Homo sapiens: one gene and its partners. The protein of the gene in region 6 interacts with the protein of the main gene of each other region in a pairwise test. Each region holds a gene or a part of one and is shown on either strand. Other genes may lie near its edges.

Region 1 (3,952 bases), on a different chromosome or scaffold from region 6:
TAGCTTATGTGGTTGTGATAGGATGGTCAGTTTTCACCAAAAGCTATGGACCTCTGAGGGCCCTGCTAGTGAAAAGGAAGAGAATTATGACCAGAATTATGGGAGGGCCAGAGTGGGGAGCTCTGCAGATATTCCTGGATTGATTGAGCCTGTCTTGAGTGGTGCAGGGAAGCTACTTGGGAGGAGGAGGCTCAGAGACAGCAGAGTGGGAGGGTAAAGGATGTCCTCAGGAAGGAGGTGACATTTGAGTGGGTTCTGGAAAGCTGTGCAAGAATTGGCCAAGTAAAGAAAGGGAGGGACAGGCACTCCAGGCAGGGAAGAAGCTCTGGTTAAAGGCATGGAGGGGTCGATAGAGCAGGCAGAAAAGAGGATTCCTGAGGTTAGGGAGGGGTGGGGACATTCCTGTAATTATCCGTGAGGGGAGATTTTGGGTCCAGGACCCATGGCTGCTTTCTTGGCTCCCTCAGTGGGGCCCAGAAACCACACAGGTAGCTGTGGGACATGGAGGTCTGCTTAGCAGTGCCTAGTAAGAAAGACTTGGTCTGCTACAGGCTGGGCATGGTGGATCACAAGGTCAGGAGTTCGAGACCAGCCTGGCCAACATGGTGAAACCCCGTTTCCACTAAAAATACAAAAAAATTAGCTAAGCACAGTGGCGGGTGCCTGTAATCCCAGCTACTCGGGAGGCTGAGGCAGGAGAATCGCTTGAACCTGGGAGGCAGAAGTTGTGGTGAGCCGAGATCATTCCACTGCACTCCTGCCTGAGCAACAGAGTGAGACTCCGTCTTAAAAAAAAAAAAAAAAAAAAAAGACTTGGCTACAAGGGAAGGAGCCTATACGAGGACAAAGGACATTGTCAAAGAGAATGGGGTAAATATTTTCATTTATTTATTATTATTATTTTGAGACAGAGTCTTGCTCTGTCGCCCAGGCTGGAGTGCAGTGGATGCAATATTGGCTCACTGCAACCTCTGCTGCCCGGGTTCAAGCGATTCTCCTGCCTCAGCCTCCCGAGTAGCTGGGACTACAGGTGCATGCCACCACGCCCAGCTACTTTTTGTGTTATTAGTAGAGACGGGGTTTCAGCATCTTGGCCAGGCTGGTCTTGAACTCCTGACCTCGTGATCCACGAGAATGGGGTAAATATTAAAGAGTCCTAAGTGTTTGAAATGCTTGTTTTCTGGTGCTGTAAAGAAATAGCATTTGAACGTAAATTCAATTTTTTTTAGCAAGGCCATATTTATACTTTCTGCAGAAAGGGTACACTCACCAGTTGTTTTGCCATGAGAATACATTGAATAAAGGAGACAGGGTTATTTATAACTTGATGTGTTTACTCTGCTGCTGTATCCAGTTTTTATTGGCTGGAACAGGACCTCACATTCTGTATTTGTCCCAATTGGCTAGCAACTTAGAACTTTTTTTTTTTTTTTTTTTTGGAGACAGAGTCTCACTCTGTCGCCCAGGCTGGAGTGCAGTGGCATGATCTCGGGGTCACTGCAAGCTCCACCTCCCGGGTTCACACCATTCTCCTGCCGCAGCCTCCCAAGTAGCTGGGACTACAGGTGCCCGCCACCACGCCTGGCTAATTTTTTTTGTATTTTTTAGTAGAGATGGGGTTTCTACGTGTTAGCCAGGATGGTCTCGATCTTCTGACCTTGTGATCCGCCCGCCTCAGCCTCCCAAAGTGCTGGGATTACAGGCATGCGCCACCACACCTGGCCAGAACTTTTGAAAAGAGGCAAAGGCAGAGGAGAATAAAGGAAGGAGGAAGTAACTTGTGGAATGCTGAAAAAGGTAAAAATAACCTTTAAATAAGGAAGAGGAACAGGCTATGATCTAATGCTTGCTTGGACTAATATAAGCATGCCAAGGTAAATATTTAGGCTAAATTGTGGGAGCTAAGAATATAAAGTACATTGATTTCTTTATTATGGCTAGCAGATATTTAAGAATGTTAGTACAGGTCTTTGAATAAATTTTGCTTTTAAGAGAAGTTACTATTTATTTCTAATTAGATGGGGAGGAAAGTCTTTGAAGAGGAACCTCTACTTTACTTTTTACATAAGCAACCTGGTGGCTGCTGGGGAAACCCTTAAAACACTGGGCAGTAGAACTCCACTGAGGTTAGTGTCAGCTCCCTTGAGGCCAAGAGCAGCTGCTCACTTGGGAGTTTTGGCTGCTGTCGCTTGGCCTCTGGGCCCTCCTGGGGCTGGTTCTGTGCTCCTTAGTCCGTGGGAAGTTACTAGACCCAGCTTCATTTCCAAAACATCTCAAGCTGCCATTTGATAAGAGTAGCATTGGAACACAGAATCAGGCTTATCCCTGTTGCCTAGCGAGGGCTTGGCTGGATGGTGGGTGTTCCTGGATCTTGTATGAATCTCTCCTGCAATATCTGGTCCTTTCAGAGTTTCCTGGGACAGATTGACCCTAGTAAGGCTAAGGAATTGGGATAGTAGTAGCATCTTCCGTCTCTGCGCAGTACTTTACATACATGATCTCATTTAGACCTTATAACAGCTCTGCAAGGCTGGTACTGGTGAGGAACTTGAGACTTAGTAGTGCAGTACTTGTCCCAGGTTGTCCAGTGCAAAGGATAGCAGGACAGGGCACAGGGAGAAGAGCACGGAAACACCAGTGGGAATACAAGGTGACAGGCTCTGTTGGGAAGCTCTTTTTTTTTTGGGGGGGGGTGAGATGGAGATTTACTCTTGTTGCCCAGGCTGGAGTGCAATGGCACAATCTCGGCTCACCGCATCCTCCACCTCCCAGGTTCAAGTGATTCTCCTGCCTCAGCCTCCCGAGTAGCTGGGATTACAGGCATGTGCCACCACGCCCAGCTAATTTTGTATTTTTAGTAGAGACGGGTTTCACCGTGTTGCCCAGGCTGATCTTGAACTCCTGACCTCTGGTGATCCGCCTGCCTCTGCCTCCCAAAGTGCTGGGATTACAGGCCTGAGCCACTGCGCCTGGCCAGCTCTGTCTCTTGATTAAGGTGGAGGATATTCTCAGCTTGTCTTTTGGGACCAGGCAGACCAGAAATGCTGGAGCATATTGGCAAACCAGCAGCCTAAGGATTTGGAAGAAAGGCTGGTCAGAGTGTCAGTTGCTTATCAACCAGCTGAGAGCCTGAACTTTCCGGAAGACATGGCTCTTGGGTAGCCACTGGGAACAGGCTTAAAACAGCTTTGGTTCTTTGAGTTCTTTGTGGGGAGTGATTGTCTGGTGTGAATCACAGTTGATAGTGCCCTGAAAGGTTCAAGGCCACATTTCCCAGGGGAAGATAAGCTTTCCACAATGTATAGAAACTCAGAAAACTCCAAGTTCTTTATGCTAAGAAACAAAAAGGGCTCAGAAAGGCTGAACACAAAGTCAAGGAAGAGAAATTGATAACTTTTGGTTAAAGGGAAGAGTTTCCAGCCTTTTGGCCAGGGCATCCACTACCAAGTCCAAATCCTGACTTGGCCTCAAGCTTTTGTAAAGGGATGCATCGTGTCCCTTTTGACCTGCTGATAGTTTTTTTGAGATGGAGTCTCACACTGTCACCCGGGCTAGAGTACAGTGACGCGATCTCGCCTCACTGCAACCTCTGCCTCCCAGGTTCAAGTGATTCTCCTGCCTCAGCCTCTGGAGTAGCTGGGATTACAGGTGCCTGCCACCACGCCCAGCTAACTTTTGTATTTTCAGTAGTGATGAGGCTTCACCATGTTGGCCAGGCTGACCTTGAACTCCTCACCTCATGATTCGCCCACCTCAGCCTCCGAAAGTGCTGGGATTACAGGTGTGAGCCACCATGCCCAGCCGACCTGCTGATAGTTTGATAAAACAGAAGTTTTACTTTCTGGAATTTCTACTCATTTTATGTTTTGGATGGTTTCTCTCTCCGTAAGCATTCAGTATTCTTGAATCTCAAGTTTTGAAAGGAGCCCTAACTTCAAGTCTACTCGCTGGC
Region 2 (3,952 bases), on a different chromosome or scaffold from region 6:
AGGGTGGTTGTGTATAAGTAATATCACATATATATAAAATATATATAGTATATTATATATAATCTATAAAATATATAATATATAGTATATTATATATTATCTATAAATATATATTGTATATATTATATATTATATATGATGTTAGTTACATTATATTCTTACATACATATGTGTGTATATATATTATATGCACATACTTATATGCTCAGCCATTGTTTCCAAAACATCAGCACCTTGCTCTGTTAGCTGGACATTCTAACATTATATATATATAATGTTACTTACACACAACCACCCTTGAAGGATATATTATTACCCTCCTTTTCACAGAAGAAAACATACTTGGTAAGTAATGTTACCAAGGTCACACATCTAGCAAGTGGGAAAGCTAGGGATTAAACCCAGTCCTGTGTGAACCTAAAGCTTGTCTTCATTGAAGTAAAGTTTTATCCATCTAAAGCTATCTTTTTTCCCCCTCCCCATATCAATTAAAAACAACATCAAAACACAGTAGAAATGAAAAACTAACATGAAACCCCTTTAGCTAATGTAAGATCATACAATCAAAAGCATCACATTATTACATTGTAAATAACACCACATCATCTTACAAATAACAAACATCTATCAATATACAGAGCTTTCTATATATAGAAGCCTTTTATGTGTATAATGTCTATAGAGAGAGATGAATCCTGCTATACACTGTTCTTTATGTTACTCAGTCCAAATAATTGTTTTTCTACCTAAGTGATGATCTGTGTTGATATTTCTCACTATATCCCAGTAATTAAAAGTTAGTCTTCTTACTAATGTAATATTTGTGACTTGAGTGACTGCTACCACTCTAAAATGACACTCAGGTTTAAAAACAACACAATAAGAACTAAGGTCTGTACCTGCCAAGATAATCAATGGCATTTACATTTGCTTTTTTCTTTAATAAAAATTCCACCATTTTCACTTTTCTTCGACTCACAGCAAGTAACAGTGGCTGATATTCATTCTGTAAAATAACAGCAACAATTTATAATCACAAAATTACATATTTATCAACTGAAATGAAAACCTTATGTAAGATCCTGTGAGCTTCAATATATACAATTGAAAGGTCGTAAGAGGTAGTCCCTTTCTTTTCCCTCCTCGGTGCTTTTCTATGTTCTGCTCCTTCCCCTGGAAACAACCTCCTCTGCCTCACCACAAGAACTCTGGTCATCTCCAAAACTCACTTCAAACATTTCCCAGTTCCAAGAATCTTTGCTTCTGTCCCAGCATTTAGCATGGCATGTTTCAAGGATTTAATTGTTTCCCACCTGAACCAAGAGCTTCTTGAGGGCAGCAGCTGTATTTTTTTCTCTATGTCCTCAAACTCTAAGACACAGTAATAAATGTTTCAGGTATTTTTATTAATGATCTAAATTATTATCTATAGAGCGGTGTTTCTTAAACTATTAATATATTCCAAAGGATATTTACTTTACCAGAATTTGAACATTATACCCCAAAAGAGAGACTCCATGATCACCCATGTTTGAAAAATGTTACAAAACTGTGCATTATGTGTCTAGTATTTGAGAAATCTTTTGAACTTCACCTAATCCCTATTTGTAAATACTTATTTTGGAGAATGTTAACATTTGAGAAATGAGAGTTTCAGGGATACAGTTGTGAGAGCTTACCAGTAAAGGTAGAGGTTTCCTCTGGGTGATACACACTTGCCTCATTCTCTTCTATCGATGGTGTGAGAATCTCAGGTGACAATGTCAGGAGCTCCTGAGCACCTGAGCACCTGACATTGTCATCTGAGATTCTGACACGATTGACAGTTCATTTGAAGCCTATCTCTTTTTAATTCGGAGAGCCGGGCTCTGAATTAATAGAGATAGGCTTCGAGTGAACTTTCACTGCTTATTATTAAATAGTCCATGGGTTTTCTCTAGTAATATTTTTATCTTAGCTGTCAGAAAGCTCTGTATGAAATGTTATTCTCAATTACAATCTTAGGACCCTGATGCAAATATTTATGTAATTATAATCTTAGGACCCTGGTACATAACTCCTTTAAAAATCTATTTGTATTCTAGTTTCCAATTCATTCTTACCTAACTTATTTTATTTTAGGTAAAATATCAATCAGAAATAAAAATACAATGGCTTATCAATTAAAGCTCTAATAATGACCTATATGAATTATTTATAGCATAATGAAAACCACTAAATTATTTGCATCATTTATTTATTTATTTATTTATTTATTTGAGATGGAGTCTCGCTCTGTCACCCAGGCTGGAGTGCAGTGGTGCCATCTCGGCTCACTGCAACCTCCGCCTCCCGGATTCAAGCACGAGAAATTCTCCTGCCTCAGCCTCCCGAGTAGCTGGGACTACAGGCGTGTGCCACCACACCCAGCTAATTTTTTGTATTTGTAGTAGAGAGGGGGTTTCACCGTGTTAGCCAGGATGGTCTCAATCTTCTGACCTCGTGATCTACCTGCCTCTGCCTCCCAAAGTGCTAGGATTACAGGCGTGAGCCACTGCGCTCGGCCAATTACTTGCATTTTTAGGAGGCAATGCTGAAGAGAAAAATATAATGTTGTCTGCAATATGCATAACCTATGCAACTATACCATGATTCACCTTAAAAAGCTTACATGCATTCTAATGGGAAGATGATTATTTATGGTATGTATAAATAGTTTATAAAACACCACCATCTAAATTCAAAAGTTCAACCCGATTACCAAAGGATTTATATAAAATATAGACTCTACATTTAAATAAATATAAAATGTCTTGAAAACCTTGAAATATTTACTAAAATATATTATAAAACAGGGCTTGTAAAGTCATCCCTACAGAGGCAAGGGAGATGACCTGAGGAAGTGAAGTACCTAGGTAGGCACAGTAGCAAAATGGAGACCACATGCCTCATAGAAAGGGGCAACCTCTGCACAGCATCCAAAACCTGAGATAGGCTCAAGGGACACCAGATTGGATTCTTGAAGAGAAGCTTGGAATCCAGATCTGTGCACGAGTCTCCTAAACCTTCCATGTTGAGACAATTTGTAGACGCAAACTAAACACATGTATGGGACACATTTGGACTATATACCTTGTATTTTTATATTTGCTATGGATATGTCTCCAAGCGATTGTATGTAAAGCAAGTATTTTCATGTAAAATACTTCCTTTCTTTAGTTTCAGATTTTTTTTCCAAAATAGGCCCAAGAATGCAATAAAAATTGTTACTAAGAGTCATAATACCCACTTTGAGCACTTTTACAACATTCATTCATTTATAATTTATGTTTAATTTTCCCAGATTGTTCACCAAATGGATAATTAGTTCATAGGACTGCTGCAACTAAATTATTAAAATAATATTAAATTATAATTCTAGTTTCTATATTGTAACCTAATTTTTTTTATTTTAGGTAAAATATAAATCAGAAATAAAAATACAATGGCTTATCAATTAAAGCTCTAATAATGACCTATATGTATTCTTTGTATTCTTACTAACTTCATGGTTTTCAGTGTTTAAAACTGCTATCCTGATTATGCCACAGTTCTATGTACTTAACTGACATACTGAGGCAGTCCATAATAGAGCTTCAGCTTTAAAAAAAGGTTTAGAATTTTTTGCTATTGTAATTGAGAGAACCCCGCTTTTAATAATGATGTATTGACCTAATCACCAGAATGATAACAAAGAGACTCAGAGTCCTGAAAGAGTCAGTCTCTACTTATTAAAAGAGTCCACAATAGCAAATTTCTAATGACCCTATGAATGGCAGTGAATAAGTGATGGTGGCAAAGAAAAGGTGTTATTCTTATGCTGATAGATACTGCAAATAATAGTCCTTTCCACTTCCCAACCACAGAGGTAGAGACAGGTAAAAGTCAGGCCAATATTATTGGAAAGGAGAAATTTAAAGGAAGCAGCACCTAT
Region 3 (3,952 bases), on a different chromosome or scaffold from region 6:
CTCTCTCTCTTTTAAGCAAGTACACTGAGGAAAGGCCATGTAAGGACTCAGCCAGAGGGTGGCCATCTGCAAGCCAGGAAGGGAGGCCTCACCAGAAACTGAATTGGCCAGAACCTTGATCTTGGGCTTCCAGCCTCCAGAGCTGTGGGAATATACATTTCTGCTGTTGAAGTCATCCAGCCTATGGTATTTTGTTATGGAAGCCTAAGCTGAATAAGGCAAGTGGGGTTCTGGCCCCTTCTCTCTTTGAGCCGCTATCTGCCGTCCACTTCTTCCCCACCTGCCCCCACCCCAGGCCAGCCATAGTTCCAGCAAGGAAGTCTGACAAGTGTGGTATTTCATTCCCGGGGTCACATGAGATTGGATCACCAGAATGGTGCTGAAATGCTGATTTGAGGTGACTCAAATCGTTTATATAGACAGAGGCCCCACAAATGATATCACATCCTCAAGGCAGCCTTGCTGGGGGCATCAGAGAAGCCATAGCTTCCCTAACTTGAGCTGGGTTTGGAAGGATAAACAGGGGTTCACCAGGCAGTCAAGGAGGGAGGGGAACAGCATGGGCACAGGCTCTGGGAGGTGAGGTGACTCAGCCCAGGTCACCCAGGCAGTAAGAGGTGGGTGGCAACTGGAAGCCTGGTCCTCTCTTCCCACCATGTTGAGTCCTTAACCCTGGAGCCTCCCATACCTTTGGCATTGCCAAGCTTCCCTGATGATCTCTTCCCTGAAAGGACTTGGCACCCAGGAGCCCCTCATCCCAGCCCACTCACCTGGTGGTGGGGAAATGGCTGTTGCCTGGACTGGCAGGGCTGGCATCTTGGGTGAGGCTCTGACCTGGGCCTGGGGAGGAGCAGGGAGCACTGGTCAGCTGTGGCCAGGACCCCAGGAACCCCAGAGCCTGGAGCTCCATGAGGCCAGGGTCTGGGCATTAGGGGTGTGAGTGGGCCCGGGGTGTGGGGGGAGTGTGCACCAACCCTCAGGGCTCAAGATCACGTAAACGTGGCCTCCGCAGATGTGTCTTTTCCTGGGAGGAAGTTCTGGGGGACTGTGACCCACCCTATGTCACAACCCATTTACTGCCTGCAACAGGCAGAACATCAAGGCCCATCTCCCAATCAAGTTCTCAGCTGAAAAGTCTCCATTTCTCAAAACCCACTGGAACCACAGAGTGCTGGGATGGAGGAGGAAGGGGGCTTCTGGGGGCTAAGCAGACCAATGCCTATGCCCACTAGTCTTGTTTCCTCTGAAAGCCTGCCTTAGAGCATGGAGCCCGCCCATCCTGGAGGGAGGGAGAGCTGGGCCTGGGCAGGACAGAGCAGGCATGAGAGAGGCATGCGTGCGCTGCTTGGTCTTTTCTATTCTTGCTGTAACGCCATTGGCATTGCCCCCTGGATGTCTTCTCTGCCCAGCAGGCCCTGCAGTGGACACCTACATGCCCTGAGGCCTACGGGAATCTCCAAGTGGCCCCAGTACCCAGCACCTTCCAGGGTAATCCCCAAGGTCCCCTTCAGGGAATCCAGGCCAATGGGGCCTGGCGACTTACCTGAATGGCTTGGTCCACTTTTAGGTCCTCTAGAGATGGGTACAGGGATGACATGGCTGATTCTCAGAACACCCTGCAGAGTGCAGAGGGTGGGGAAGGATAAGGATGCAGCTGATGCCCCCTTGAAAGGAGGCACAGACATCCGCAACAGCAAGCGGGTTGGAACTTAATATTCAAACAGAAAGGCAGCAGGGCACTTAGAATGCCTCCCCGAACTCCACCCCTAATCCCCTGTCGATATTTGAACTCTACTGTATTCCACTCATCTCCAGCCTCACTGTCAACTTTTAATCTTGGCCACAATGAAGTAAGACCAGTAGGAAATTTATAAAGACTCTCACACAAACTGTAGCAGAACTTAGACACTCAACAGGGCACTGCTCCAGAGGGAGGAGGGAATGGGGGGTGGAGAGGCACCATGAGCACTTATTTACTAAACACCTTCTCATTGTCCCAGGGAGAATCAGCAGGACCTCTGAGCAAGGTGCCCCGAGAAAGTGAAAGGAATGATGACCTCTTAAGAAATGTTTTATTCCCTTCCTGACGAAATGTGGGGAAGGAGCAGTCTGCCTTTCTGGGTTCCTTCCCTTTACTCACTAACCACTGGCTCTGTCACACCTCCAGGCTTCGCTGAGGCAGTCCACTCCAACTGGAGCCCCTGCCCAACCTCCTTGTCACCCTCGGTTCCTGTGGGACACGCCTCCCCTGGCTCCCAGGCAATACGGTCACTGCCCCTCCCACCCAGGACCCTGCCCTCCGGGACAGCTCCGGGACAGCACCGGGCCAGCCTCTTGCTTGAACTCGCCACTTGTCCTGACTGCAGTTCTGAGGGGTAAAGGTGTGTCCTATTCACCCCACTGAACTCACATGTGATGGGTACACATGATAAAGGAATGCCCGCTGGTGGCACAGGAAACTGAGGGTCCTGTGCCTGAGCGATGTGACTCCAGGCTTCCCAGGATCAGATCCGCTGGGCACCTCCCTGAGTGACCACAGGCACGCCGAGGACATACTCATCCATCACTGCTCCTTCTCCTCCCTCTGCACCTGCTGCCTTGACCCCTGTGTCATCCTTGGCCCCGCCCCCACTATCCCTTCTTGTCTGTCATCAAATCCCATCTCTCCCACATCCCGTGTTGTGCAGGTCCCCATCATCTCCCTGGCCCTCTCCAGGTGCCATAACACCCTCCAAACACACTGCTGCCTCCCCTCCTGCCGTCCTGCTGCTCTCCAGACAGCAGCCACCAGGCCCTTTGTGTACACACTTGGGATGTCATGCCCTGGCTGAAAGCCCGCCAGTGGCTTCCCTGCCTTGGGAATGTACTCTCCTTAAAGAGGCTCACAGGGCCTTCACGATTCCACCAGAGATTGGAACTGGTGGGCCCAGGGCCAGATGGAAATAGATTTTATTTGACCTTGTGGAGTACTGTAAACGTTCAGATTAGCAGCTTAAACACAAAGCTCAAGGTACTGGATTTAATAATCGAATTTCCCACTGCTCCCAAAAAACAGGAAGCTTTGGCAACCCTAGGCTATAGCAGAGTAGCTACAATTGAGTAGCAGCAGACTCCAGGGTGACCCAGTCCACCATCCTCTATTGGCTGTTACACCCAGACCATTGTACTCACTGGTGCCAAGTCCCAATAGATATTTGTTTGCAACCCTAGTCTACCTCTCCAGCTTCATTTCTTGCCTTACGTCCTTTCAGCTGCTACTTTCAACTCCAGCCACAATGAGCTACTTCCACGTCCTTGCATGTGATTCCCTCCTGTCTCTTTTGCATGTGTTATTCCTTCTATCTGGAATACCCCTCCTCTCCCTGCTCCTTGCTTGGCCAACTCCTAATAATTTTCAAGTCTCAGATCAGGGAGCTCCTCTTACAGGAAGCCTGCTTTGATTTGTGCTCCCCCTAGCCCCTGCTCCATGTCCTACTCCTGTTGAGTATTCACCACTCTTGTGGTTGCCTCTTTACTTGTCTGTCTACCTCCTTAGGAGTTCCAAGATGGCAGGAACAGGGGCTTCTCATTTGCTGTGAAGCCTCTAACCCCTAGCATGGAGGCTAGCTCAATAATATTGCCAGAAGCAACACATTCTACCTGGGCTTCCACTTTTCTCCTTGTAAAGTAAAGCTCTAGTATCCTAAGAACACCCACCTTCCTGGATGAAACAAGGACCAGAAGTCCCAAATGTGCCTCTCACAGTCCTGTTTTATTATTATTATTATTTTGAGACAGAGTCTCACTCTGTTGCCAAAGCTGGAGTACAGTGGCGCGATCTTGGCTCACTGCAATCTCCAACTCCTGGGCTGAAGCCATCCTCCCACCTCAGCTTCCCAAGTAGCTGGGACATAGGTGCATGCCGCCACACCTGGTTAATTTTTGTATTTTTTGTAGAGACAGGGTTTCAGCA
Region 4 (4,604 bases), on a different chromosome or scaffold from region 6:
CCAGTTTACCAAATTCTTAACTTGGAAGAGTAAAATTACCACAATAAATGTAAACTCTCACTATCCCCGTTTACCTGGGCCTAATGGACATCCCAGTTGATTAGAAAATAAATTCTTTCGTTATTATCTGCCTTTAATTCAAATTTAGCCTATTCATATTTGTCAGACTGATGCTAAGAGAACTAGAAGCCCCTTTTTCCCAGTACGCAGATACAAATGTGCAATCTTTGTCTCTCTGTGCAGCACACAGAAAATTACTGGTAAAAAATATGAATACAGGTTATTTTTTTCTTTTTGAGACGGTATGGCTCTGTCACCCAGGCTGGAGTGCAGTGGAATGATCTCAGCTCACCGCAGCCTTGACCTCCCAGGCTCGAGCAGTCCTTCCACCTCAGTCTCAGCCTCCTGAGTACCTGGGCACATACCACCATGCCCAGCTAATTTTTGTGTCTTTTGTAGAGACAGGGTTTTGCCGTGTTGCCCAGGCTAGTCTCGAACTCTTGGACTTAAGTAGTCCCTCGGACAGTGGCCTCCCAAGTGCTGGGATTACAGGCATGAGCCGTGGGCACATTTACTCTATAGTATGTATTTTACCTGAATCTTTTGGTGAACTCAGTATAAAAAGTTAAACGTTAATGAATGAGGGCCAGGCACAGTGGCTCACGCATGTAATTCGAGCACTTTGGGAGGCCAAGGCGGGCAGATCACAAGGTCAAGAAATCGAATCCATCCTGGCCAACATGGTGAAAGCCCATCTCTACTAAAAGTACAAAACTTAGCTGGGCGTGGTGGCGCACGCCTGAGTCCCAGCTACTTGGGAGGCTGAGGCAGGAGAATCGCTTGAACCTGGGAGGCGGAGACGCAGTGAGCCGAGATTGCACCACTGCACTCCAGCCTAACAACAGAGCAAGACGGCATCTCAAAAAAATTTTTAAAAAATTAATAAATGAGATAAATAGATAACTAGAGCTAATCTTTAATCCAATAGGATAATACAATTGTAACATCTTTAATACCAATGTAAGATATTTCCTAAGCTGGAAAGTTTGGGTGCCTTTATTTATTTAAAAAATCAGGACAGATAATTGAATTATGCCTTCTTCTTAGGTTTCCTCTTACTCGACCCAGTCTTTGTAAAGAATGGGAGGCAGCTGTCAGAAGAAAAAACTTTAAACCCACCAAGTATAGCAGTATTTGTTCAGAGCACTTTACTCCAGACTGCTTTAAGAGAGAGTGCAACAACAAGTTACTGAAAGAGAATGCTGTGCCCACAATATTTCTTTGTACTGAGCCACATGACAAGGTAATATGCATTTTAAAATATTGGGTTGCTTTTTGTTTATCAAACTGATGTGTTCATTGATTAAAATGTGGAAAATTGAGTTAGTGTTAAGAGAATAAATGTGCCTGGAACCTTGTAGTTAACAGTGATACACTTCTGAAAACACAAAATGCAGTTTATTAAAGATAAATATCCTCACACTAAGAAACTTAGTCCAGCTTTGTAACTTAGTTAAAAACCACTCTGTACTGCCAGTTATATATTGATAAGTTTTGGGTTTTCTTTATCAGTGACAGTTTAGTTTCAAAGCATTTTTTTCTCCTCAGTGCTTAATATTTAATTAGATCTGATGATTCATTTTGTCTCTTTCCTGCACCGTCCCTCTACTTCAGGTAGAAAAGTTTATTCAAACTGAAACTGTTTTCTCATTTTGGAATGTTTCTATACCACTGATTCCCAAAAAAAGTCAGTATTTCTTAAATTCCACAGATTCTTTTATTATTTATTTATTTATTTATTTTTTGGAGACAAAGTCTTTGTTGCCCAGGCTGGAGTGCAGTGACATGATCTTGGCTCACTGCAACCTCCGCCTCCCAGTTTCAAGCAATTCTCTTGCCTCAGCCGCCCAAGTAGCTGGGATTATAGGCGTGCACCACCACATCTGGCTAATTTTTGTATTTTTAGCAGAGACAGGGTTTCACCATGTTGGCCAGGCTGGTCTCAAACTCCTGACCTCAGGTGATCCGCCCACCTCTTCCTCACAAAAGTACTAGGATTATAGGCATGAGCCACTGCGCCTGGTCAGTCCACAGATTCTTTTAAACTGTTTTTAGTTACTAAATTCAAACATACTTTGTATTTTTGTTTTAGAAAGAAGATCTTCTGGAGCCACAGGAACAGCTTCCCCCACCTCCTTTACCGCCTCCTGTTTCCCAGGTTGATGCTGCTATTGGATTACTAATGCCGCCTCTTCAGACCCCTGTTAATCTCTCAGTTTTCTGTGACCACAACTATACTGTGGAGGATACAATGCACCAGCGGAAAAGGATTCATCAGCTAGAACAGCAAGTTGAAAAACTCAGAAAGAAGCTCAAGACCGCACAGCAGCGATGCAGAAGGCAAGAACGGCAGCTTGAAAAATTAAAGGAGGTTGTTCACTTCCAGAAAGAGAAAGACGACGTATCAGAAAGAGGTTATGTGATTCTACCAAATGACTACTTTGAAATAGTTGAAGTACCAGCATAAAAAAATGAAATGTGTATTGATTTCTAATGGGGCAATACCACATATCCTCCTCTAGCCTGTAAAGGAGTTTCATTTAAAAAAATAACATTTGATTACTTATATAAAAACAGTTCAGAATATTTTTTTAAAAAAAATTCTATATATACTGTAAAATTATAAATTTTTTTGTTTGTAATTTCAGGTTTTTTACATTTTAACAAAATATTTTAAAAGTTATAAACTAACCTCAGACCTCTAATGTAAGTTGGTTTCAAGATTGGGGATTTTGGGGTTTTTTTTTAGTATTTATAGAAATAATGTAAAAATAAAAAGTAAAGAGAATGAGAACAGTGTGGTAAAAGGGTGATTTCAGTTTAAAACTTAAAATTAGTACTGTTTTATTGAGAGAATTTAGTTATATTTTAAATCAGAAGTATGGGTCAGATCATGGGACATAACTTCTTAGAATATATATATACATATGTACATATTCTCATATGTAAAGTCACAAGGTTCATTTATCTTTCTGAATCAGTTATCAAAGATAAATTGGCAAGTCAGTACTTAAGAAAAAAGATTTGATTATCATCACAGCAGAAAAAAGTCATTGCATATCTGATCAATAACTTCAGATTCTAAGAGTGGATTTTTTTTTTTTACATGGGCTCCTATTTTTTCCCCTACTGTCTTGCATTATAAAATTAGAAGTGTATTTTCAGTGGAAGAAACATTTTTCAATAAATAAAGTAAGGCATTGTCATCAATGAAGTAATTAAAACTGGGACCTGATCTATGATACGCTTTTTTCTTTCATTACACCCTAGCTGAAGGACATCCAGTTCCCCAGCTGTAGTTATGTATCTGCCTTCAAGTCTCTGACAAATGTGCTGTGTTAGTAGAGTTTGATTTGTATCATATGATAATCTTGCACTTGACTGAGTTGGGACAAGGCTTCACATAAAAAATTATTTCTTCACTTTTAACACAAGTTAGAAATTATATCCCATTTAGTTAAGTGCGTGATTTATATTCAGAACAACCTACTATGTAGCGTTTATTTTACTGAATGTGGAGATTTAAACACTGAGGTTTCTGTTCAAACTGTGAGTTCTGTTCTTTGTGAGAAATTTTACATATATTGGAAGTGAAAATATGTTCTGAGTAAACAAATATTGCTATGGGAGTTATCTTTTTAGATTTAGAATAACTGTTCCAATGATAATTATTACTTTTATATTTCAAAGTACACTAAGATCGTTGAAGAGCAATAGAACCTTTAAGACAGTATTAAAGGTGTGAAACAATGGCATTCAAAGTGTCTTTTGTAGAACTGGTTTTCATTGTAGTTCACTGCCATGCTGCCAGTGGATAGCACTGTGATTCATGCATATTTGATGTTTTATGAACCAGTATCTCAAAAATAGAAATAATGATTAGAAGATTACTTGAAGTTGGGCGGGGCGCCATGGCTCACGCCTGTAATCCCAGCACTTTGGGAGGCCGAGGCGGATGGATCACAAGGTCAGGAGTTCAAGACCAGCCTGGCCAATATGGTGAAACCCCGTCTCTACTAAAAATACAAAAACTAGCTGGGCATGGTGGCGAGTGCCTGTAGTCCCAGCTACTTGGGAGGCTGAGGCAGGAGAATTGCCTGAACCCGGGAGGTGGAGGTTGCAGTGAGCTGAGATTGCGCCACTACACTCCAGCCTGGGCAATAAAGCAAGACCCCGTCTCAAAAAAAAAAAAAAAAAAAAAAAAAGATTACTTGAAGTTACATAGTCTGATAACATCATTTAGAACTCATGCTGATCAGTCAGAAGGCTTTTACAGATTATTCATGGAACTCGAAGCTACAAAGTATTCAAGAAGTTTGGTTTTATATGTCATCTTTCTAGCAATTCCTGGAAGTACTCAGGAATATTTAGATTTATTCCTGAATATTTTGAAAAGTATATACCTTCGGCCGGGCACAGTGGCTCATGCCTGTAATCCCAGCACTTTGGGAGGCCAAGGCGGGTGGATCACCTGAGGTCAGGAGTTCAAGTCCAGCCTGACCAACATGGAGAAACCCTGTCTCTACTAAAAATACAAAATTAGT
Region 5 (3,952 bases), on a different chromosome or scaffold from region 6:
GGAGGATGAGCGTGATGAAGATCGTGAATGTGAAGATCGAGACTTTGAGCGACTTCGTCTATTAGATTTCTTTTTATTACTATCTTCTTCTTCACTGGCATCAAGATTATATTTTGAGAGATCAGCGTCATCTTCATCCTCATCCTAACAAAAATTCAATTATAATTAGACATTTAGATATTAGTGTTACCTACCAGGAAAGATAAAACAGTTAGGTGTACTGAGCACCTCCATATGCATATATCACAGGTATCTCAGCAAATTAATTCTGAATTCTAAAATTCACCTACTAAACTCATCTCAAATAGAGACTTGACAACTTTGTCTCAGGTATTGCACAGACATAAACCTGGAGGCCATACACACTTTTTCTGTCACACTTATGCATCACCCAAGAATTTTCAAGTCCACCTCCTTAAAAGTCCTTGAAATCACCATTTTTAGTCTTAGACACTCTGTTCCTTATTCTCTAGCATATTATAGTAACCTCTTAGCTGGTCTCCTCAAATCTGAAGATCCATTCTGCCTCTCTAGTATCTCAATATACTGACAGTCATCACTCTGAAACACAGGACAGATAAACACATCTCACTTTTTTCTTAAAAACTTCAAAACTGGCTTATTATTTCTTTAGTTGCATTCCAAGACCTCTTATGATCAGGCTCTAAGGTACCCTTAACATGGCATAAAACTTACACTCTGGCCTGACAGAACAAGTATCACCAGACCTGAAATGTGTGCTGTCCCCCTCATCTCATTCTCCCCTCTGCTCTAACTATACTGGCCTATGTATGGTATTTTTGAAGGCTGCTGGCTTATCTCCTATTTAGGGAACCCGTATTTGCTGTTCTCTGCCTAAATGTGCTCTCACCTCGGCTCTTATTGCTGGCTCCTTCCTATCATTCAAGTTTCAGCTCAAACTTCACCTCCTTAGACATTATCCATCGGCAAAACCAAAGTTGCTTTTAAACTGTTATCACATCATGTGTCTTCATAACGTTACTGCTATCAAAATTACCTATTTATATATTTCCTCCTCTAGAACTGTGTAAGAGAAAACTGGTTCTGTTTCGGTCACCACTGTATCTCCAGAACAGTAGTGTTCCAAGTACAAATAGTACTTGGCAGAGTGGAAATCCAAAACCTTTGTGAGAACAAATGAAAACACAGAATATATTTTCACCAAGTGTCTGAGGCTGTCAAAAGCATTCATGTTATGGTATAACTCCAATAAGACAAAAGGGAAATAGGACAAGAAAATTGTTCACCTCATCTAACTTATATTTAGAAAGATCTTCATCCTCATCCTCTTCTTCTCCCTCTGATTCTTTATCTTCAACTTCCTTTAATATAGATGCAGGACCAACTGCTTTCCCTCTGTATTTTTTCTTTTTACGTCCAAACTAGAGAAAAACAATTTCAAAATGCTTGTCAGCTGATAATGCATTAAACTTAATACATTTTCTAAAAAATTATTTTAGATATTTATGATTTCCTGAAAATGATCAGTTGCTGAAGACTCAAATTGCACTTAAAAAAAAGTTTGTTTTCCTTTGCATTTAAGAATTTTTTCTGTTTTTCTAATTTATATTCAACCTGAACACCAAAATATAGCTTACCTCATCATATTCACCATCAGATTCTTCTCTTTCTATATATTCAACATTTTCTCTTTCATTAAAACCACCACCATATCCTTAAAAAAGAGGGCACAAATTGTTACCCTATGACAATTGATTTAAATAATAAACACATCATGCCCAAATCTCCAGACAACAAAAAACATCTAATCAACAATGGCTGCCTACCCATCTAATAAATTACTAGTCTTTAGAAAGCATATTAGAAATCACCACAGAAAATACAGAGAACTTAGTTGTAACGTCATATGGCTGTACTTCTAGCTCTTTTCAATTCCAAATTGCCCTACATGACTTATTTAATTCATAGAAAGTATTGGTGGAAAACATCTCAAACTTCTGCTATAACCAAGTTTTAAAGGACTTTCCTCTACAGTTAATCGTAATTCTTCTGGGAAGGGTGGGCTCAGTAACAACCAAGCATTAAATTCCACTGTTTACCAACTGCAAATAGTCTGAAATCTTCTGATATTCTGAAATTTTGCTACTTTAAAATGTAGCAGGCCTTATTAGAGCTTGGAAAATTCCTAATTACACAGACAAACACAATAACACAATAAAGGCCATCCTTTGGCCCTGGTTTAATTGGTTTTAACACATAGGTAAAAGTCACACAGGTTCTCTGAAGTAGCCAGTAAATTTTGAAATTAAATGATTCTATTAAAAAGTAGTTGAGATTAGCAAACCACTATTCTCTCATGTCACAACCAATGTATACAATTCAATTGGCAGGTCTCTGACATAAGCTTAAAGGAGAGACTGGAATTAAAGAAAATGAGCTAGTTTTAGGAAAAGTGAGTTGACATATTTTGAAAAAGTCTCCCATTGAAAATTAAAGAGGTATGTGTTGATCAAGAGTAATACAATCTAACTGGTCACATACTCCAGAGCAGTATCAGTACAATAAGGCCGGTGATTTCCAGACTTAGGGACTTCATTCATCAGCAAAATATTAAATAGATTTATAATAAAAATATTTTATAAAAATTAGGACTTGTAACTTAAAATTTGCCTATCATATTTAAAAAAATATTTTTAAAATTTCACTTTCTGAAAAAAACCCACACTAATATAGCATCTTTTCTTCATTATACTTTGTACTAGTGAAAACTTCAAAATACTTGGAAGTTAATAAAAATATTTTTAAACATACGTGGGATCTAAATTGGAAATAATTTACATAGGAAAAAACTGAAAAGTAATATGACAAATATGGAAAGCTCAAAAATATAGTAAAATTAGAAAGTGAACTATAACTCTAGTAGTTAATTTTTCAAAAGTATGTAAATAAAATTATTTTAAGAGGCAGCAAAATAGTCTGCTGACAACAAAGACATTGGTATGTTCTATGAACCCATACAATATAAATCTAGCTCATTAACTCTGTATAAATGGAAAATACACTAGCTCCCTATCGTGAAAAAACTGAAGCATACCATTTTCACTGAATACCTGAGATAGTGGAATCAATGGAATGATATGTATGTTTCCGTCATTCTACTAATTTCAAGCACTTCAGATAATGCTGTATAAATTGGTTTTATTTCCACTCTTGCCGCCACCTCTCCTAATTACTTCTCCACAAACAGAAAGAAGAGTGTTTAATCCATTACTCAGGTAACTCATCTTTCACTTCTTAGCTTAAGCATAGCTTTCCTAAAGAGGACTTCATTAATCTTTGGTGCTGTAAGACTCTTTTGCTCACCTAGGTATCCCCAGCACCTTGCACAGTGGCCTATAAATGTCTTCAAGGAATGAATACAGAAAACACAATTCTGGAATCATCTAATGAATTTGAATTTCTATGGAAAGCTTTAGAAAGCAACCAAGAATTTCCGTAGATTTTAGTAAGTCTTACAATGAATATATTTTCAAATTTGTCTCACAGTATAATGTAAAAAGCTGAGCAAGGGCCAAGAAAGAATCAAACACAGGTTTAAAATGAATGTTTGGATCAAGATTGTGACAATGGAAAAAAAGCGGGAAAGGGGGATGAATATAACATGTACTTCAAAGGAAGAACTAAGGCACTAACAGGAAAACTCTGTGATTCTACACCCTGAACAATTAATTCAACTCCTGAGAACATATTCTAAGGAAAGAATCCAAAAGAATAAAAATCACAATGTACTAAGTTTGTTTTTATGCCATTATCTTTAATGGTTTTTTTTTTAAAAAAAAGCTGACAAAAACAAAAATAATCCTAAATCCTGAAACAGAGAAGTAAATTACTGAACAATTTGATGGAATTATGCAGGATAAGCCAGCAGCAATCTTTCAGAGGTAGTGAATCACATTCTCTTTTATTCATA
Region 6 (3,952 bases):
CTCTGCCATCCTCACGACTGTCGGTCTGTGCAATTTTCCTGACTGAGAGAGGACCGGCCGCATTAAAGCTATCGGATCAAGTTTTAAAGGACTACGTGTTTGAAACTGAAGTGCCAAGTACGCTGCGGTGAGTGGAGAAAGATGGATCTCTAAAGCATGGTGTCTTCCTTCCTGCCGGCGGGCTCCGTGGACATTCGTGGCTGCAGAAGGGTCTTGGCTTTGCAGGGGTGGACGGAGAGCGGCCAAGGAGCGGCCAGGAGGCTCGAGCAGGTCCTGGTCTTTCCCGGACAGGCCGTGGGGAGGCCGTGCCCGTCATTACCTGTTCCAGGTACTGCGGTGCCTGCTCGGGGACCGGGAGCGCGACCGCTCGCTTCGGCGGCGGTGGCGGCTGTGCTTCCTGCTGGCGCTGCCCCTCCGCTCCCGGCTCCGCTCCCTCCGGTGCCTGTCTTTGCTGTGGGACCTCCGGGACCGGGTGTGGTCCGGGCTCGTGCTGCGCCGGCGGGGGCTGTCATCCTTGTAGGCGTGCTTCTTGTGGGGCCGCCGCTCCTTGCGTGGCCTCCCGTCCTCCCTGCTGCTGGCCCGCCTGGCCCGGCTCCTCTCCCGCTTGTGCCGGTCAGCAAGCCCGTCTCCGGTGGCCCGGCCCCGGCCCTTGCTGGGCTCCCGGTTGCACTTGTCCTGTTCTGACCGGGTGTCCTTTCTGGAGACATTCTGCTCGCAGGCAGGGATGCCCTTGGGCTGTTGGTTGTTGTCAGGAATGCAGGAGAGGACGCCGCCCGGGCACCTCTTCTCTGGAGAGCCATCCTCGGGGACCACACGACAGGAGCTCTGAACCTCCTTGCATGGGGCCTCCTCGGCCACGCTCCCGTTCACGCTTTTGGGAGCGCCGTCGGCCTCTGGGTGGGCCGGGCTCTCCTTGGGGGCACCGGCCGGGGGCTGGCCCCCGAGGGGGTGCAGCGTGGTGGCGCTCACACAGCCGGACGACACGGTCTGCAGGATGTCCAGGACGGGCTGCAGCAGGTCGGCGTGTGCCACGCCCAGCTCGTCGTGTGTGTGGCTGTCGTCCGGCTTCTTGCTCAGCAGGATGCTCAGCAGCCGCTCGCGCAGCTCCCGCTCTTTCCGCTGCAGGCCCAGCGCGCGCTCCTTCTCCTCCTCCACGCGCCGCAGCTCGGCCTCCTGCAGCCGCCGCCGCTCCTCCTGCTGCTGGAGCCTCAGCTTCTCCTCCTTCTGCTCCTGTTCCCGTAGCTTCACAGCCTGCGGGGAAGAGGAAAGTGCAGCTGAGCCCGGTTCCTGAGCCTGGCCGGACACGTGGGACAGGAGCTGGGAAGGTGTTTGGAGGCCCCATGGTCTGGGGATGCAGGATCAGCGGCCTGGCTGGACTCCAGCCCAGGGGTGGGGGGCGTCTCCTACGGCGAGCCAGGTCCAGCCCGTCCATCCCTCGGCTCCCGCGGCCACACCTGGGGCCATCATGCGTCTGAGTGAGAAGGAAACCCCTTGGCAAAGCGGCTCGGCGCAGCCCCAGGGCGGGCCTCTTGGGCAGAGCCGAGCCCTGCCGGGAGCCCCACCACGTTGCACACAGGCGCCTGCGGTTAGGTCACAAGCGGCCGCCAGCAACAGGGAGCTGAGATGACGCCGCAGACGCATGCCACCGCCGTAGCTGCGGGGCGAGCCTGGCCTAGCCTGGGTTAGTGTCTTCAATATTCACCATGAGGTAAGGACTGGGCTGCCACATGTCTCAGCCTCTTGTCATGCTCCTTCCCGGGGACTTATCACAACTGTAATCAGACAACAGGTTATGGGGTCGCCCCGCGTTGGACTCCAGGGGGACGCAGCCCTCCTGAGGACAAGGAGCGTGCCGGGGACGTCTGTCCTGGGGAGGTCTGTCTGTCTGTGGGCCCTGGCCCCGGGCTCATGGGAGTTACCAGTCGCGCCTGCAGGAGGAGCAGGGAGGCTCTTGGTGCTGAGGGGGTCGTCAGTACCGGCGCTGGTGAGACCTGTCAGGTTCACGCTGCGGAGGAGGGACCCGGGCCCACGGCAGGCCCCCTCTGTGCGCTCAGCCCTCCCCCCAGCCCACCTTGCCCCTCTGCTCTGGGCCACTGGTGAGGTCACAGCCAGGCCAGCTGACCACACACAGAGGCGCGGGCCAGAGGGAGCGGCCCCCTGCACTCTCTGCCACTGCCCCGACCCAAAGGAAACAGAGAGCCTCTGCCCTGGCCCCCGGGAGGCTGCCAGCCTGCTCGGGGAACCTGAATGCACCAGCTTTGCAAAAGGAAACCGTCACAGCTCTGAAATCATCGGGAACGACAGACGAGCGCTACACCCTCCCGGGAAGGAGCCGTCATCCTCGGCATTAAAGCTGGTTTCGTAGCTACAGCTGCAGCCGGCGGGGAAACGGCGCCGTGACGCCGCCCGCATTTCAGGGGAGGGCACTGAGGGCAGCCCGGGCGCGGCTGGCGGCTGCAGAGGGAGCCCCCGGGTACCTTGGCTCTGCTGAGCAGCTCGGCGATGAGCCGGATGGACTGCAGGTTCCTCTGGGCCAGCAGCAGCTTGCGCTCCTCCAGCTTGATCTTCTCCTGCAGCTGCTTCTGCTCCTCCGCCTGCAGCTTCTCCAGCTTCTTCTGATTCCGGCGCAGCTCACGGTCCCTCTGCTTCTGCTCCCTCTTGCGAAGCTTCTCTTCTCTTTTCCTCTCTCGCTCCAGCTCTTCCAGCTCCTTTTGTTTCCTGTGTGGAACACACCGGGGGTGGTCACAGAGAGCGCCGCAGCCAACACACCACACACCATACAAGCGGCTTTCCAAACACGGCGGAACAGGCCACGGTCCAACGATTAAGCATTTAACTCTTTATCCCAAGGTGGACCTCGGTTGACTCAAAGCAGCCCGAGAGGTGGAAGGAGTGAGCCGGGCGAGGACCTCCGTGACCTTCCAACACACCGTCCTGCTAAGTGTGACCCAACCCTGAAACCACGAAGAAAACGACCACTGGACCGACCACATCAAAAGCCACGCCCCCAGTCAGGGGAAAGACGGATGGGCAGACGGACGGGTGAAAGAGGAACCCCAGCAGGCCCAACAAGGCCCCGGGATGCACAGCGGCGCGGAGGACGCCGGTTCTGCCCACCAGGAACCGCGCTGGGTGACTCCTTGTTGTGCAGGACTCCTGTGAGGGCACCACACAGCACTGGCACGGGGGGACCTCTCTCTAAACAAATCCAACCACAGCCACGCCACTCAGCTCCTTGCACTTTTCCTGTGGAGAGGGGTGTCCAGGAAGTGAGGATGAATGCGGCCGGGGAGGGGCGCGGTCCCCAGAGAGAGTCCACAAGAGACAGTGGGGAGTTCCCTAGCTCAGCCTCCCCCGCCCCGCAGCTCTCAAATGCATTTCAACCAACACCGGACATGGGAACAAGTCGCAGCTGTTCCTATGGAACACGACACGGAGGCGGAGACTTCTGAAGCCCGGGTGGGCGCCGCCAACCGCCTAGTGAGGCCACAAAGCCCGCCGGGGTGACACAGACCCACGCAGACACCAAGGGGAGAGGAGACACGGGGACAAGGAGGAGCAGGCCGGGAGAAAAGGCATCCCACGCTCTGCCACCCCAAGAAGGGGGCCGGGCCAGGTGCCGACGCCCAGACAGTGATCCACACGGTCTCCGGGCGGGGCATGCAGGTCCTCAGGCAGTTTCATGTGCTGAAGGTTTAACCGCCCTGTGAGCTGTCACCGCCCCACGAGCTCGGAGGGCGGCTCAGGGCAGCCCAGCACACAGCACGCCCTTAGGCGGGACCCACAGCGACGCCTCGAGGCTGGGCAGCTTTCAGAGGACAGCTCTCATCAAGCTCAAAGTTACACGTGAGGGCTGAACAAGCAAACATGCCTCATCTCCACCCACCAGAAAGAAATGCAGGAGGCTGCCCTGGGCCTCCCCTCATGCTCAGCCTCTGAGGAAGGACAGTGG
Region 7 (3,952 bases), on a different chromosome or scaffold from region 6:
GGAAAATGTATATTATATGAGCAGCTCCCTTCCACGGCTCCCCTCCACTAGCGTTGACTATTCCCCCACAGTTAATGTTCCCCTCAGAGAGTTTAGCCTGCTTTCTCTCCTATTAAAAGAAATGGTATTTGAGACCCTGCTGGGGGCAAAGGTCTGATTTTCTCTGATCATTCCTTGTATTTGTAGATAACGTTGATGAAATAGAAGAATCATCCCCATTTTGCAGATCGGATAACTAAAAATAACTGTGTGACTATAAGCAAGGGACTCCATGCTTCATTAAGGGTCTCTCCCTTCGCTGTTTTTTTTTTACATTCCTCTGTCTCTATTTCTCCCTACATTATCATGCTTAAGACAATAATATGTTTTACAGTTTCAAATAGCTAGAAGAAAAATACTGAATGTTTCTAATAAAAGAAATTATAAATGTTTAAGATGATGGATATGTTAATTACACTGATCTGATCACTGTACATTATATGTATCACAACACCACTATGTATCCCCCAAATATGTACAGTTATTATGTGAAAACAAATTTTAAAAATTAAAAAGACTGTCTCCCTTATGAAATATGTACTTATGTTGTGTCTACCTTTTCTACTAAACTCTGAGGCCCTCACTAGAGGACATTCAACTTTTTTCTCCCCAATGGGCCTGGCAAATAGTAACGAAAAAACCTATCATTTATTATTAATAGCAAGAGCCAACACTGATGGAGCTCTGACTGGGTGCCAAGTAGCACTTTCCATAAATTAGCTCATCCAGTCCTCACAGCAGCTCTTGGAGGGAGCTGCTATTATTAGCCCCATTTTATGGATGAGAAAACTGAGATTGAGAAGGTCAAGCTGCTTGCCAAGTCTCATAGCCCGTAAGCATTTGCAACCAATAAAATAAAACACTTCCTTTGATTAGTGTGCCCCTGAGGTCCATCAAATGTTTCAAACAGCTCTACCAATCTCCAGTGGCTCTTTAGGGAGCACCAAAGCCACATTTAAAAGTGAATACAGAGCATTGGAGCTGCTCAGGAGTCCAGTCCACAGAACCCAAGCATCACTACTGAACAAGCGCAGCCCAGGTAGTAAGGGGCTTTAGCATCCCCCCTCTCTGCATCTCGTTGGGTAGCCCCTGGCATAGTACACAAGAGCATCTGCTTTATGGAGATCTGGGTTTGTACCAGGCACAGTGCCATGCTCTTTATATAAATTATCTCATTCACTCCTCACTACAACCCCAACAGAGGAGTATTTCACAGATGGGGAGGCTGAGGCACAAAGAGGTGAAGTGACTAGCGGGTCCTGCAGCTTGCACGTAGCAAAGAAAGATTTGAGCCTGGATAGATTTGACTTCAGAGCTCAAACTCTTCATCATTCTACTTCCTCCACCTCAGAAATATTCTCTCACACTTCAGCGAAAGTCTTAGGAACAAGCAATTAAAGAGCTCTAGTTTTGCTAAGCCCCTGTGAATTCTTCCACTTCACGGGAAGGTAAATCCAGCCACTCTGAAAAATAAAAAATAAAAAAAACAGATTTTTTTTTTAATGTATTGCTCTTCTGCAGCATGCCTGAAGAGTTCATGGAGAAGAAGGCATGTGACCCAGGCTTCCTTCCCTATTAAAGGAGTTAGGGTTTTAGGGATGTTCCCTTTTTTTGGTGGCCTGGAGCAGTGGTGGAGGTAATGGAGACTTACAGGCCTAGAAAGCACATCCAAGTGGCATTTAGTCCAACCTCCTGCCCCCATACTGGCTAACATGTCTACTTGCCCAGACAGACAGATGTCTCTATCTAGGGAACTTCATTCTGACACCAGGGAGAGTCAAGTCTATTTGCAGTGTGTGCGTCTTTCAAGTTGCATTGATCAGAAGCCTCAGCGTCTCAGAACTGGAGGTGGGGTGGGGAGAGAGCTAATCTGTTGCTGGGTTTGAACCATGCACATTCATCTAATTAATGCATCCAACATTCACTGAACATCTACCACAACCTCGTTCTCTAAGATAGCACGTGTGCCGGGTGAACACAGCAGAATGTCAGAAATGACCCCCTGCAACCAACCCCTGTATCCCATTCAACAAATTTCACCTTTCAAAAGGAGAAAGGTTTGACCCACACAATAACGCTCCCTTCCTAGAGAAAAACGCTCATTCACCGCCAGGGCAAGCATTTTCTGTGACCCTCAGCGCATTGGCTCTTAACCACAGGCTGCTGCCAGAAAATCGCCTCTCAACAGCCCCTCACCTGGCTCCTGATGATCAAGTCAGCACAAACTGCTAACTGATCTCTTGGCACCGAGGGGAGTCTTGAATTAAATGGTTCAAAGGCATTTTTTTTTCTGCCTTACAATTTCCCTTTATGCAGTAAAATCTCCAATAGTTTGGAATTTATGGCCTTTTGGACAGGGCCTGGGCTGAAGTCTACTTCTGGTCTATTCTGCGTAGAAAGGATTTTTGAAGAAAATTAATAGCTTGCTAAAAGAATTGTAAGGAAAATGTGTGTTCTACTTAAGGGGATATCTTTTCTAGCCCTTTACTAACACTCATGCATCCATAAACAATTGATATGCAAATTTCAAATGATTTTTACATGTTCATTAAGCCTTTAGCTGCTACTATTGGTCGATATGGTGATATGAAATCATATTGTGGCTTGATCTAGCCTTAAGCACTAGGTTTTCACCGAGCTGAAACTTCTTAGGTACAAACTTCTCTAGGCTAAGCAATTAAAAAAGAGAATTAAGTTAATGCCAGGCAAAATGACTACCCTTCTTGGATGGGGATAAAAGGGAGGTGGCTCTCTACACTTTAGAGATTCATATATCTTATCGATTCATGCTGGTTCCCTTCCGGCTGGTAGATAAAGTTTGACAAGGACCACTGTACATCCTGGTTTGCCTGGGATGATCTCTGTTAGATCTTCCATCCTAGGTAATTACTAATGACACCTTCTTTCATTTTTAAAGACATTTTGATATAAACTATAAATCACATAGTCACTGTAGATTTGATGAAACCGTGGGATTAAAATTGTGATTTTTCAAGAAGTTTGAGCTTTCTTTAGACTGACAGTACCTGGTCTTCTCTATACAAACCAACAGAATGCTCCATGGAAATGTTATACCAATCAATTCTGAATCCAGATAATTATTTATTATCCCCAACCCCCTAACTGAAACAGTCAGATCAGAAAGCAGTTAGCCTCTTCTCAGAGACGAGGATTATGGGACCACTCTCTACCCTGCCTCATGTGTGTTAACTTCATCTGAATGTAGTTGTCCATCAGGAGTTGAAATCCCAATAAAAATGGTCAGCATTACTTGGGGGAGAAATGGGTAGGCATGGAGAACACAATGATGAGGAGTTGTTGCTTTCCTTTTGGCCACTATAAGCTTTGTTCCAGAGTCAATGTCTACTAAACAACACCATGCACCACACATAGGGGTAGAGCTTTACCTAACTAAATCCTTACAACCTGTTGTCTGAGGGGTTACTGTTATTATTTCTATTTTCAAGCTCAGTGTGGTAAAACTATTTGTTCAGGATACACAGCTAGTAAATGATAGAACCAGGACAGGAATCCAGGTTGTCTCATGCTCAAGTCTGAGCTCTTAACCACTATGATATACTGCTTCCCACTCTGCTCTACTGTTCTGACATTTGAGGCAGACATCTGGTTGCAATTTGATACATTATAAAGCTATTGCCTCATCAAGTATGCCCCACAGAGGGGTAGAGGAGAAAGAGAGACTAAGCAGGGGGTTGCTTAGATTGCAGTTGCATGATGTATGCATATTGCTATGAAATCAATGAATTGAATATATGTTTCTATCCTGGTACTAAATTACCTTGAGAGATAGACTTAAAATATCCTGAGGAAGTTTATTCAGAGGGGTGGCCTTCATCTATAAACAAATATTAAGTGTGACACCAACAGGACTGACTAGTGGTTCCTCCACCCA

The links.
Region 1: the proteins of AKAP17A (region 6) and RNF4 interact in binary tests that used the Homo sapiens proteins (3 or more experiments, as listed by UniProt).
Region 2: the proteins of AKAP17A (region 6) and ANKRD36B interact in binary tests that used the Homo sapiens proteins (3 or more experiments, as listed by UniProt).
Region 3: the proteins of AKAP17A (region 6) and SDCBP2 interact in binary tests that used the Homo sapiens proteins (3 or more experiments, as listed by UniProt).
Region 4: the proteins of AKAP17A (region 6) and THAP1 interact in binary tests that used the Homo sapiens proteins (3 or more experiments, as listed by UniProt).
Region 5: the proteins of AKAP17A (region 6) and ZRANB2 interact in binary tests that used the Homo sapiens proteins (3 or more experiments, as listed by UniProt).
Region 7: the proteins of AKAP17A (region 6) and SRRM4 interact in binary tests that used the Homo sapiens proteins (3 or more experiments, as listed by UniProt).

The regions. Positions count from the first base shown.
Region 1 is NC_000004.12:2,492,956-2,496,907, forward strand, and holds part of RNF4 (E3 ubiquitin-protein ligase RNF4), read left to right. Parts: intron 1-3,952. UniProt on the Homo sapiens protein: E3 ubiquitin-protein ligase which binds polysumoylated chains covalently attached to proteins and mediates 'Lys-6'-, 'Lys-11'-, 'Lys-48'- and 'Lys-63'-linked polyubiquitination of those substrates and their subsequent targeting to the proteasome for degradation.
Region 2 is NC_000002.12:97,579,563-97,583,514, forward strand, and holds part of ANKRD36B (ankyrin repeat domain-containing protein 36B), read right to left. Parts: intron 1,007-3,952; coding exon 900-1,006; intron 1-899.
Region 3 is NC_000020.11:1,318,820-1,322,771, forward strand, and holds part of SDCBP2 (syntenin-2), read right to left. Parts: intron 2,382-3,952; exon of another isoform or gene 1,617-2,381; 5' UTR 1,598-1,616; coding exon 1,544-1,597; intron 841-1,543; coding exon 771-840; intron 1-770.
Region 4 is NC_000008.11:42,835,885-42,840,488, reverse strand, and holds the end of THAP1 (THAP domain-containing protein 1), read left to right. Parts: intron 1-1,107; coding exon 1,108-1,303; intron 1,304-2,152; coding exon 2,153-2,527; 3' UTR 2,528-3,815; downstream 3,816-4,604. UniProt on the Homo sapiens protein: DNA-binding transcription regulator that regulates endothelial cell proliferation and G1/S cell-cycle progression.
Region 5 is NC_000001.11:71,070,853-71,074,804, forward strand, and holds part of ZRANB2 (zinc finger Ran-binding domain-containing protein 2), read right to left. Parts: intron 1,697-3,952; coding exon 1,620-1,696; intron 1,404-1,619; coding exon 1,269-1,403; intron 145-1,268; coding exon 1-144. UniProt on the Homo sapiens protein: Splice factor required for alternative splicing of TRA2B/SFRS10 transcripts. Binds to ssRNA containing the consensus sequence 5'-AGGUAA-3'. May interfere with constitutive 5'-splice site selection.
Region 6 is NC_000023.11:1,597,958-1,601,909, reverse strand, and holds part of AKAP17A (A-kinase anchor protein 17A), read right to left. Parts: intron 2,719-3,952; coding exon 2,478-2,718; intron 1,773-2,477; exon of another isoform or gene 1,703-1,772; intron 1,252-1,702; coding exon 316-1,251; 3' UTR 1-315. UniProt on the Homo sapiens protein: Splice factor regulating alternative splice site selection for certain mRNA precursors. Mediates regulation of pre-mRNA splicing in a PKA-dependent manner.
Region 7 is NC_000012.12:118,984,487-118,988,438, reverse strand, and holds part of SRRM4 (serine/arginine repetitive matrix protein 4), read right to left. Parts: intron 1-3,952. UniProt on the Homo sapiens protein: Splicing factor specifically required for neural cell differentiation.